Homo sapiens: one gene and its partners. The protein of the gene in region 2 interacts with the protein of the main gene of each other region in a pairwise test. Each region holds a gene or a part of one and is shown on either strand. Other genes may lie near its edges. The genes, in order: TRIM69, ALB and KCTD17.

Region 1 (3,600 bases), on a different chromosome or scaffold from region 2:
TAGGAGTTAAATGTCTTAGCTAAGGCTATTCAGTGCTCTGGTGGTGAGAGACAAGGCTTCCATCTTCTAGGCCAGTACTCTTACCCCTAGGCTAAAGGTTCAAAAATGTGCAGGCGCTGGCTTTAGTAAAATCAGCTATACTAAGCATTGTCAAATGTTTTAGCCAACAACAAAAACAATCAAGATGAAACAAAATTACTTTTTTGACTAAGTGATCACCAGCATTTCATAGACATTTATCTGACAAAGGTTTTGATCTAACAAATGCCATGTATTGCCAAGGTGAGCAAGATACAGTACTACCTATCCTGTGGTTTGTTCACAACTTAGTGGAGGGGCAGACATGCAATCAAACAATTAGAATACACTCTGTTAAAGCCACGTGTACAAAGATCTAGGGTGCTATAGAAATGTGTAAAACTAGGCCAGGCGTGGTGTTGCTCACACCTGTAATCCTAGCACTTTGTGAGGCTGAGGTGGGAGGACAGCTTGAGCTCAGAAATTTGAGATCAGCCTAGGCAACATAGTGAGACCCTGTCAGAAAGAAAAGAAAAAAGAAAAGAAAAGAAGGAAAGAAAGAGAAAGAGAAAGAAAGGGAGAAAGAAAGAAAGAGAGCAAGAGAGAAAGAAAGAGGAAAAAGAAAGGAAGAAAGAGAAAGAAACAGAGAGAGAAAGAAAGGGAGAAAGAAAACAGAAAGAGAGAGAAAGAAAGAAAGAGAAAGAAAAAAAGAAAGAGGAAAGAAGGAAGGAAGGAAGGAAGGAAGGAAAGAAGGAAGGAAGGAAGGAAGGAAGGAAGGAAGGAAGGAAGGGAGTAAAGCTGTGTTTCTCAACTGGGGAGTGATTCCAACCCCTGCCCCCAGGAGACATTTGGCAATGACTGGAGACATTTTTGTTATGACTGGGTTTGGTGGGGGGGGGGTGGCTACAGGCATCTAGTGTGTAAACGCCAGGGACACTGCTAAATATCCTAAAATTCACAGGACAGCCCCTCTAACGTAAGACTTAGCAGGCCCAAAATATCAATAGGGCTGAGGTTGGTAACCTCTGGTATAGAGCCAGCAAAATATCTTCTACAAGAGACAGGGAAGTGGGTAAAGCTTGGTTTGGGGATGAGGGGGTGGTTAGGGAAGAGTTTAGTAAAGAGATAATGACGGGGGTGTGGGGGAAGGGAAACTCCCATCCGAAGGGACAACATATACAAAGCTGCAGAAGCGTGACATATTTGGGCGATCCCAAACACTGGGGAAAGAGCTGTGGTCATTAAGTCTGGACAGCTAGGCAGGAGCTAGACGTGCAAGAAATCATATTGAGTTAGAGGAACTACTGTAAGAAAAACTGTTTGGCTCTGTGGTGGCTCTTTATAAGTCACTCAGGAGCACAGTGTTGGTACATCTCTCTGCGAGCTAAAACTGCTGAAGAAAGCTGTATGAAATGAAGCTTTTTTCATCCTGCTTTCTTAGGGCCTGGTGTTTCCCAGGCCTGTGTTACTGTCTCAGAGATAAAATCAGGGCTGCTTCATTGGAATATGAGAGGTGAACTAGCTCTCTATTAAAGCCACTCAGCTGGTGTCTTGATGGTGTGATGGGATCATGAACAGGGGTGAGGTGGTTATTTTTCATGAGTTAGGCTTAATATAGGCTGCTGCTGACGTGTATTTCCTCTTTCATAGAGCATCCTTAGTCCAGAAATGGGGAGCTATGAACCTTAAGATTAGACCACTAACTCGAATCTAAATGAGCTGCCCTTGTCTCCTACAAAAGAAAAGTTGGGCAGGTAGGGTATTCTAATGAGGGTTTCTCTTTCTCTTAAGCAAATGATGATCAAAGTTAACTGACAAACTGTCACGGAATCTGCCAGACCTCACTCTGGCCTTGCTGCTTCTCTCCAGCTCCTGAACTTTTCTTTCTTCCATCATGCTCTGAGCCCATTCCTTGAAAACTAAAAGGTCCCTGACTCCCAGTCTGCAGCCATCCTGGGCCTGCTGAGCTCTGATTCAAGTGCCTGCCTCTGCCCCTTGGTGGGCTGAAGCTTCATGGAGGTGAGTGACCCTTTTTTTTTTTAACTTAGCAGGGCTTCTAGGAATAGTGTGGAAAACAGGATCATAGAAGAGGATATGGATTTAGGAGCACAAAAGGAAATTCATGAAGGGAAGTATTTAACTTGTGACAGCTGGTAGCTACTATACTCTCTCCAAGCCTTGGAATAACTGATAATTTATACTAGAGAAGCTGGTAGGAAAGTAATGAAATCCACCAAAACATTTTGAGAAAAAATAAACTATATACTATATACAATTTACTTTCATTATCAATGTAATCATTTTATTTTAGATTTAAAAATTATTATGTATAACTTGGTTTGCTTACAATACCTTCACATTTGATTATTTTATATTTAAGGCAGAGTTGATACTTAGATAGTAAACATTTTTAATTGAATTCTTCCTTTAAGACCTCTTCAGAGCTAAAATAAAGGAAGTTATGTTCTTCTGAACTTAGTGTTTTCCTGATTGTCAAACAAAAGAAAATGGTTATTTACTACATGAAAGCTTGAAAAACTCACTAAGGGTTTTTCAGGGGCCCTTGAATCCTGAGTTATCATCCATTTCCACTAGTTTCCACTTCTTATAAAGTTTAATTTCATTATATTAATCATTAAGATCAGTTTCTAATTTCCTCTATCATAGGACCTTTAGGTTTGCTGCTACTCATCTCTGTGCTTAGCTATTGAAGCAAACAGGGCTATAAGCATTTTGTTTATAATTTCTAGGGCAAAAATAAACACTATTGCCTAAACCTACTATATTCTTATTACTTTAAGGCCAAGTCAGTGAAAATAGACACTTTTCCATAATAGTAAAAAAATTGTTTGTGTGATAGTGAGTTTCCCATTACTTCAGATGTTCAGGCAGAGGTTGGAAAGGAGTGAATTAAATGGCTTAAAATTTCTTTCAACTCTGGGAAGCTCCAAGAAGTCAGAAAGTTCAGAATCTTGCCTTCTTATGTGCAAATGGCTTGACTCGTGAAGCAGGAGTGTGTCTTGCTCTTAGGTTTAAGCTGGCTGTGCTATATAGTTTGTCTCTGTGGATGAACTGTATTTTTCTGCTCTCAAAGTTAATTCTTCATAAAAACTGCCCATCAAAGTTTAAAAATTACTTTGAAGGAATAAAGGTTGAAAAGCAACAAATGAACTCTCCTTAGATATCTTAACTATGATTTCAAAAATTTACAACACAAAACTTCTCAGGAAAAAAAAATCTCTGGTAAAAATTAAGGATTTCTTATGCAAGCTTCCATGGACTTCATAGCTCTTTGCCTTTTCTCTGCTCTTTGAGAATGTGCACAGTGAACTGAAGGAGGAAGATACATACTTTCTTTCTTTCTTTTTTTTTTTTTTTTTTTTTTAGGACAGAGTCTCACTCTCTTGCTCAGGCTGGAGTGCAGTGGCACCATCTCAGCTCACTGCAACCTCCGCTTCCAGGGTTCAAGTGATTCTCATGCCTCAGCATCCCAAATAGCTGGGACTGCAGGGACGCACCACCACGCCTGGCTAATTTTTGTATTATTATTTTTTTTTTTAGTAGAGATGAGGTCTCACCATG
Region 2 (3,825 bases):
GGTAGGCAACTCAATTACAAAATAAATGTTTACATATTGTCAGAAGTTGTGGTGATAAACTGCATTTTTGTTGTTGGATTATGATAATGCACTAAATAATATTTCCTAAAATTATGTACCCTACAAGATTTCACTCATACAGAGAAGAAAGAGAATATTTTAAGAACATATCTCTGCCCATCTATTTATCAGAATCCTTTTGAGATGTAGTTTAAATCAAACAAAATGTTAATAAAAATAACAAGTATCATTCATCAAAGACTTCATATGTGCCAAGCAGTGTGTGCTTTGTGTAGATTATGTCATATAGTTCTCATAATCCACCTTCCGAGACAGATACTATTTATTTTTTGAGACAGAGTTTTACTCTTGTTGCCCAGGCTGGAGTGCAATGGTGCCATCTCGGCTCACCACAACCTCCGCCTCCCAGGTTCAAGCGATTCTCCTGCCTCAGCCTCCTGGGATTACAGGCATGCACCACCATGCCTGGCTAATTTTGTATTTTTAGTAGAGATGGGGTTTCACCATGTTGGTCAGACTGGTCTCAAACTCCTGACCTCTGGTGATATGCCTGCCTCAGCCTCCTAAAGTGCTGGGATTACAGGCATGAGCCACTGTGCCCAGCCGACAGATACTATTATTATTTCCATTCTACCGAGAAGGAGACTAAGGCTCTGATCATTTAAATAAGTTGCCTAAGGTGATGCAGTGATATAAGTAGCAGAGCTAGGAATTGAGCCTTGGTAACTTTAACTCTGGACCCCAAGTCCTTAGCTACTAAGCTTTACTGCATGGGGTTTAGTCAAATTAAGACTTTTGGAATATGAGTTACTTTTGAGATTAGCTTTGTGATATTTTTTGTGCTCATTTGTCCAACAAAGTCTATTTTATTTTCATCTTAATTAGGTTTTTGTATGAATATGCAAGAAGGCATCCTGATTACTCTGTCGTGCTGCTGCTGAGACTTGCCAAGACATATGAAACCACTCTAGAGAAGTGCTGTGCCGCTGCAGATCCTCATGAATGCTATGCCAAAGTGGTAGGTTTATTGTTGGAAAAAAATGTAGTTCTTTGACTGATGATTCCAATAATGAGAAAGAAAAATAATGCAAGAATGTAAAATGATATACAGTGCAATTTAGATCTTTTCTTGAGATGGTTTCAATTCTGGAATCTTAAACATGAAAGAAAAAGTAGCCTTAGAATGATTAACAAAATTTAGACTAGTTAGAATAGAAAGATCTGAATAGAGCAATCTCTAAAAAATTTTGATCTTTTTTTCTCTTTTTCACAATCCTGAGAACAAAAAAAAATTAAATTTAAATGTTAATTAGAAGATATTTAACTTAGATGTAAAGTGAGTTAACCTGATTCCAGGATTAATCAAGTACTAGAATTAGTATCTTATGGCAAATTATAGAACCTATCCCTTTAGAATATTTTCAAATCTTTTTGAGGATGTTTAGGAATAGTTTTACAAGAAATTAAGTTAGGAGAGGAAATCTGTTCTGGAGGATTTTTAGGGTTCCCACTAGCATATGTAATGGTTTCTGAACTATTCAGAATCAGAGAAAACTCATTTTTCCTGCTTTCAAGAAGCTACTGTATGCCAGGCACCATGCACAAACAATGACCAACGTAAAATCTCTCATTTTGGAGAGCCTGGAATCTAACTGGAAAGGTGAACTAATAATAATAATATGTACAATCATAGCCATCATTTATTAAACTTTTATTATATGCAAGGCACTGTTTAATTTCATTAGCTTACCTGGTTTACAGAGCAGCTCTATGAGATGAGTGCCATCTTTGCCCCTATTTTAGGGATAAGGATTCTGAAATGTGGAGATGGTAAGTAAAATTGCACAACTGAAGAATGAGTTACATGACTTGGCTCAAATACTGGTCATTGAACTCCAGAGCCTGAATATTCTTAACCACTTACATGATGCAAGCTCACCAAATAAATAGTTCGAATGTATTGTGACAGAGCGGCATTGATATTCATCTATTCATGTGGCTTTGAGTAGGAAGAAGAAAGGATATCATTCTGACCAGAGGGGTGAAAAACAACCTGCATCTGATCCTGAGGCATAATACTATTAACACAATTCTTTTATGTTTCAGTTCGATGAATTTAAACCTCTTGTGGAAGAGCCTCAGAATTTAATCAAACAAAATTGTGAGCTTTTTGAGCAGCTTGGAGAGTACAAATTCCAGAATGCGTAAGTAATTTTTATTGACTGATTTTTTTTATCAATTTGTAATTATTTAAGACTTAATATATGAGCCACCTAGCATAGAACTTTTAAGAATGAAAATACATTGCATATTTCTAATCACTCTTTGTCAAGAAAGATAGGAGAGGAGAGATAAAATAGTTGATGGGGTGGAGAGGTCTATATTTGAATGTAGTCTAAAAATTGTTCTCTTAAGATTGGAAGTATGTAGGCTGGGAGGGTAAATACCAAATCTTGGTATATCAGAACTGAGCATGTCCCTTGAAGGTTAAGAAATAGTTAATGGGCAAATAGAGCATGGCAATATTTTGTAGAGCAGCAAGTAGTAGGCCTTGAATAGATGTCGCTCAAAAAGTAATATGTAAGCTGAACACAAAAATGTAACAAATGAATTTAGATACATATTTGAATATTAAATTCAGGTTGTTTGGGAGATGCACCTAGTCTTTGATGGTTAAACCTTTCCCTCCATAGAAGAGACAGAGACAGAATGGCTTGCTGGACTAATGTCCCAATTCAATAGAGTCTTATCTATGAAGGTTAAAAACAAGAAGAGACATATTATACAGTAGATATTTATTGTGTGGCTCATACACATGGTGCTCTTCTGATTATGGATTTTAGAGATAATAACAGTGAACAAGACATAGTTTCTTTCCTCGAGTAGATTAAAGTCATACATTGACTTTTAATGGTGACTGGCATTCTTAATACATGATTATTATATATTAGGTACCATGTCAGATTAATTATAATACTTTACTACTTTTAATTTAACCCTTGAACTATCCCTATTGAGTCAGATATATTTCCTTCCATTTTCTACTTGTATCTTTCAAGTTTAGCATATGCTGATACATATGAAGCTCTCTCCAGGTTTTATTGAAAGAAGAAATTAATAAATTTATTAATGTCACTGAATTAGGCAACTCACTTTCCCAAGATTATGCAAGTGGTACAGGTGGAACTCAAAGCCAAGTTTAACTAGTTGTTCAGGAGAATGTTTTCTACCCTCCACTAACCCACTACTCTGCAGATGGAGATAATATGATGAATGGAACATAGCAACATCTTAGTTGATTCCGGCCAAGTGTTCTCTGTTTTATCTACTATGTTAGACAGTTTCTTGCCTTGCTGAAAACACATGACTTCTTTTTTTCAGGCTATTAGTTCGTTACACCAAGAAAGTACCCCAAGTGTCAACTCCAACTCTTGTAGAGGTCTCAAGAAACCTAGGAAAAGTGGGCAGCAAATGTTGTAAACATCCTGAAGCAAAAAGAATGCCCTGTGCAGAAGACTATGTGAGTCTTTAAAAAAATATAATAAATTAATAATGAAAAAATTTTACCTTTAGATATTGATAATGCTAGCTTTCATAAGCAGAAGGAAGTAATGTGTGTGTGTGCATGTTTGTGTGCATGTGTGTGTGCATGCACGTGTGTGTATGTGTGATATTGGCAGTCAAGGCCCCGAGGATGATAATTTTTTTTTTTTTTTTGAGACGGAGTCTCGCTTTGTTGTCCAGGCTGGAGTGCAGTGGTGCCATCTCGGCTCACTGCAACCTCCGCCTCCCAGGTTCAAGCCA
Region 3 (3,825 bases), on a different chromosome or scaffold from region 2:
CAGCTCTGCTAACAGGTCGTTCTCCCAGACATGGCCTCCCCACTGTTTGTTAGGCCCGGATATGGGCATATCCAGGGCCTCGGCCACCTAGGCCTGGGGATAACCAAAGCCCCACTGGGAAGCAGACTCCCCCCTCTCCTGCCTCCACCCACAGCCAGCACTGTGCCGCACAGGCTGCCAGACTTAGTGAACAGTCACCCGCTCCACCCACTTACAAGCCCTCACCAGGCAGAATTTGAGATACTGGATCAGCCAGAGAAAGAGAGACAGAGCTCTCCCCATGCCTGTCAACACTGCATTCCTGTCACCCCAGCCTCCGGATGTGACCGTCCACACCTGGCTTCCTAGGAGGCCAGAGAGAAAGGGCGTCACAGCCCACAGCAGAGGCCACAGGGCCTCGCTGACTTCCTCTATCCCCTGCACATGTGTCTCTTCACCTCCCTGACAGTACCCAGGGAAAGCTTGAGCCCGTCCGCTTGGCAGAGCCCCAGGCTCGGCACAGGCAGATGCTTGGGAATCAGCCCCGTCCGACTGGGAAGAGGCAGGAAACAACCAAGCAGGCAGATGGCCGTCCTGGTTGTCCAAATGGCTTGGGGCCTCCACAGAGGGCCCTGGCAGGCTGCATAAGGTCCAGGCCAGCCCCCTGGACCAACTCACCCTCCTCAGCCATGTCCTTGTCCAGCACCAGCTTGCCATGCCGGAGGAAGTTCAGGATGGGCCCGAAGTAGGTGGGGTCACGGTCAATGAGGTAGGCCCCGGTCTCATCCTATGGAGGTGAGGGATGCTCGGTGAGAGAAGAGTGAGGCTTCTCCCCAGCCAACCCCGCACACGCACAGGGAGGGAAGGAGAGTGGAGGGAGAGCTCTTCCCTGGATGGAGCAGGCACAAAGTAGCAAAAAGGCACTGGGGTCAGATGGACCTGAGTTCAAGCCCTGCTTCTGACTCTTCCTGAATGTGTGACCTTAGGCTAATGATTTGGCCTCTTTGAAACTCACTCCTCTCCCCCTAATCAGGGTTTGCTGTGAGCATCCGGTGAGAGGATGTCTGAGTGGCAACTGGCCCAGCACAGGGCTCGAAGAATGTCCCTCTGAGAGGCTGTCCCCTGAAGCCAGCCCCACTGTCGCCCCCAGGTCCCTAGGCTTTCAGGGGATGTTTACAAGTTTCCAAAGGAGTCACTATCTCACTGGACACTCGGGCGGGCAGGGAGGCAGGGTGGGCTTCCATGCGACTCTACAGAGAGATCGGAGACATTGAGAGGTGAGGCGACTTGCCAAAGGCCACAGCATCGGAGGGTCACGGATGGGGGACAGGAGACCTTAGAGGTCATCTTCAGACCAGCCCTTCGTGTTACAGATGAGGAAGGAGGCTGAGCGCAGTGCAGGGAAGGGTCCGACTCAAGGTCGCGGCAGGCAGTGTGCAGCAGAGTCAGGGTGGGTGCTCAGAAATAGTGCCCGCTGGGCCAACGCTCCTTCTAGATTCAGCCCGCTCAGAAGGCGCCCCAGGGCTCCTCCATCCAGCTAGCTCCCTGCACCCCTCCGCCACCCACATCCCAAAGAGCGGGAGAAGTAGCCTCGTCGACTCCTTCCCCAGAGCAGGAGTCCCCTTTGGGAGGGAGGAAAGGTCCCAGGTCTCTCCCTGTCCACAGCCCCAAAGGAGAAGGAGAGGCCCCGATCCGGGGCGGCTGGAGAGCTTCTAATGGCCGCGGCCTGCGTCGTCCCGTTGCCACGGCAATGGGTACATCCCTCACTACCAGACCCACCTCCCCCTCCCCTCCTCCTGCCGCTTCTTCCCGCCTCCAGTTCCTCGGAAATGAACCCGGCCGGGTCCCCAGCCTGGCGGGCGAGCCAGGCCCGACAGCCCCGCGTCGGGCGAGCGGAGGACCCACCGCCCGCTCGCCGCCCACCCCGGGGGCCTCACCCGGTCCGACTGCAGCTCTTCCCCCTGGCACAGGCGGCTGAGGAAGGACTTCTGCTCGCGGCACAGCGTCTGCCGGGTGGTCAGGAACACCGTGCCCCCCACGTTGAGCCGCACCCACTTGCCCCAGCCGCCTGCGGCGCGGCCGCCCGCCCCCGCCGGCGGCGCTGCCTCCCCGGCCTCCATCCTCATCGCCGGCCGCGGCGTCTGCATCCTCCTCCCGGGCGCTGGGGGCGGGCGGGGACCGCACGCGGGGCAGGCCGGGAGCTGTAGTCCGCGCCTCCTGGCTCCGCGTGGGCCGCGGGTAGGGTCCCGCCCCGCGCTGCTCCCGCCCCCGGTCCCGCCCCGCTTCGCCCTTCCCCGCAGGCCCGCAGTCTGGGGTGGTGAAGATGCCCTCTGGCCAAATCACTGTGTATGGGGAAGGTCGAACTCCCGGCCTCTGGGAAAAGAATGAGGGCTTCCCCAAATCTGCAGTCATCCCATGGGTCCGAGCATTCTTGTTTTTCCTTTGTGCCGTCTCCGTCGTCCAACAGCTGATAAGGGAAGAAACTTTCCCCTCCAGGAATCCCCATAGCATTGACCCGCATGTGTTTCGTCATATTTTTTCATTTGCCCTTTGTGTGTATAGGGGTGGGGGCGGGGTGGGTGGGAGTGGGTTCTTTCCCTCACCTGAGTTCTTGGAGAACGACATAGCTGGACTTGAGGTTGGCTGAGCACCTGTATGCCAGACACTTTGTGTATATGTGTTATGAATTTAAGCTCTCAGCAGCCCTGTGAGTCTGGTATTTTGGGCTATACCCATTTTACAGATGAAGCCACAGAAGCGAAGTGACCGCCCTACTCACATTGCTGGTGAGTGAGTACCCACCAAGGTCTCTTTCCTGCTCCCTGACCATGGAATGTCAGGGATCCTTGGGAAAGACTTCTAAGGAGGAAGAGTAGAGCACGCCCTGGATCCGAGTCAGGAGAACTGAGTTTCCATTCTGGCTTTTGGCCTTTCTCAGTTTTTCCACGTCCTCCCTAAGAAGGAGGAGGGATTGGTTCTGCGGGTGGCTTTCTGAGTTATTCCCCAGTTAACTCGGAGGGGAACCGTCATTCTGTGGACCTCAGGATGGGGGAAGGGAGCAGTTCCTCATGTGGTCCGGGACCAGGGAGGGACAAGGGCTGACGAGGAAGCTGTCTCCTTAGCTTCCTCTCCTTACTGGTTTCAGTCCTGGTCCTGGCCTATGGGGGAGAGGTCTGGGGCTCCTCTCACTGATCCAATGTCACACGCAGCTGGCCCGAACACTGGGCAGCCTGGCCCTGTGCTGGGAGAAGTTTCCCTGTTACCACCCAATGCCCTGCTTTCTGCATAAAGCTTTTCTCCTTGGCAGGGAGTGGATCAAAGGTGTACTGGAATCCTGCTACTTAAAATTCACTAGGTGTGTCCTGAGCAACTTCCTCTCTGAGATTGGCTTTCTCTCTTGCCAAATGGGATTTACAACAGTTGTGACCCCAGAGCATTGCTGTGAAGATTAAGTTATGAAATGTCTATAAACATCTAGCGTAGGCTGGGTGCGGTGGCTCACACCTGTAATCCCAGCACTTTGGGAGGCCAAGGCTCGCTTGAGCATAGAAGTTCAAGACCAGCCTGGACAGCATAGTGAGACCCCTATCTCTCTCTCTCTCTCTCTCTCTCTCTCTCTCTCTCTCTTTTTCTTTTTTGAGATACAGTCTCACTCTCTCACCCAGACTGGAGTGCAGTGGCACCATCTCAGCTCACTGCAACCTCTGCCTTCTGGGTTCAAGCAATTCTCATGCCTCAGCCTCCTGAGTAGCTGGGATGACAGGCATGCACCACCACGCCTGGCTAATTTTTGTATTTTTAGTAGAGATAGGGTTTCACCACGTTGGCCAGGCTGGTTTTGAACTC

The links.
Region 1: the proteins of ALB (region 2) and TRIM69 interact in binary tests that used the Homo sapiens proteins (3 or more experiments, as listed by UniProt).
Region 3: the proteins of ALB (region 2) and KCTD17 interact in binary tests that used the Homo sapiens proteins (3 or more experiments, as listed by UniProt).

Annotation. Positions count from the first base shown.
Region 1 is NC_000015.10:44,734,674-44,738,273, forward strand, and holds the start of TRIM69 (E3 ubiquitin-protein ligase TRIM69), read left to right. Parts: upstream 1-1,854; 5' UTR 1,855-2,031; coding exon 2,032-2,037; intron 2,038-3,600.
Region 2 is NC_000004.12:73,414,129-73,417,953, forward strand, and holds part of ALB (albumin preproprotein), read left to right. Parts: intron 1-906; coding exon 907-1,039; intron 1,040-2,127; coding exon 2,128-2,225; intron 2,226-3,402; coding exon 3,403-3,541; intron 3,542-3,825. UniProt on the Homo sapiens protein: Binds water, Ca(2+), Na(+), K(+), fatty acids, hormones, bilirubin and drugs. Its main function is the regulation of the colloidal osmotic pressure of blood. Major zinc transporter in plasma, typically binds about 80% of all plasma zinc.
Region 3 is NC_000022.11:37,050,041-37,053,865, reverse strand, and holds the start of KCTD17 (BTB/POZ domain-containing protein KCTD17), read right to left. Parts: upstream 2,125-3,825; 5' UTR 2,106-2,124; coding exon 1,917-2,105; intron 767-1,916; coding exon 658-766; intron 1-657. UniProt on the Homo sapiens protein: Substrate-adapter for CUL3-RING ubiquitin ligase complexes which mediates the ubiquitination and subsequent proteasomal degradation of TCHP, a protein involved in ciliogenesis down-regulation.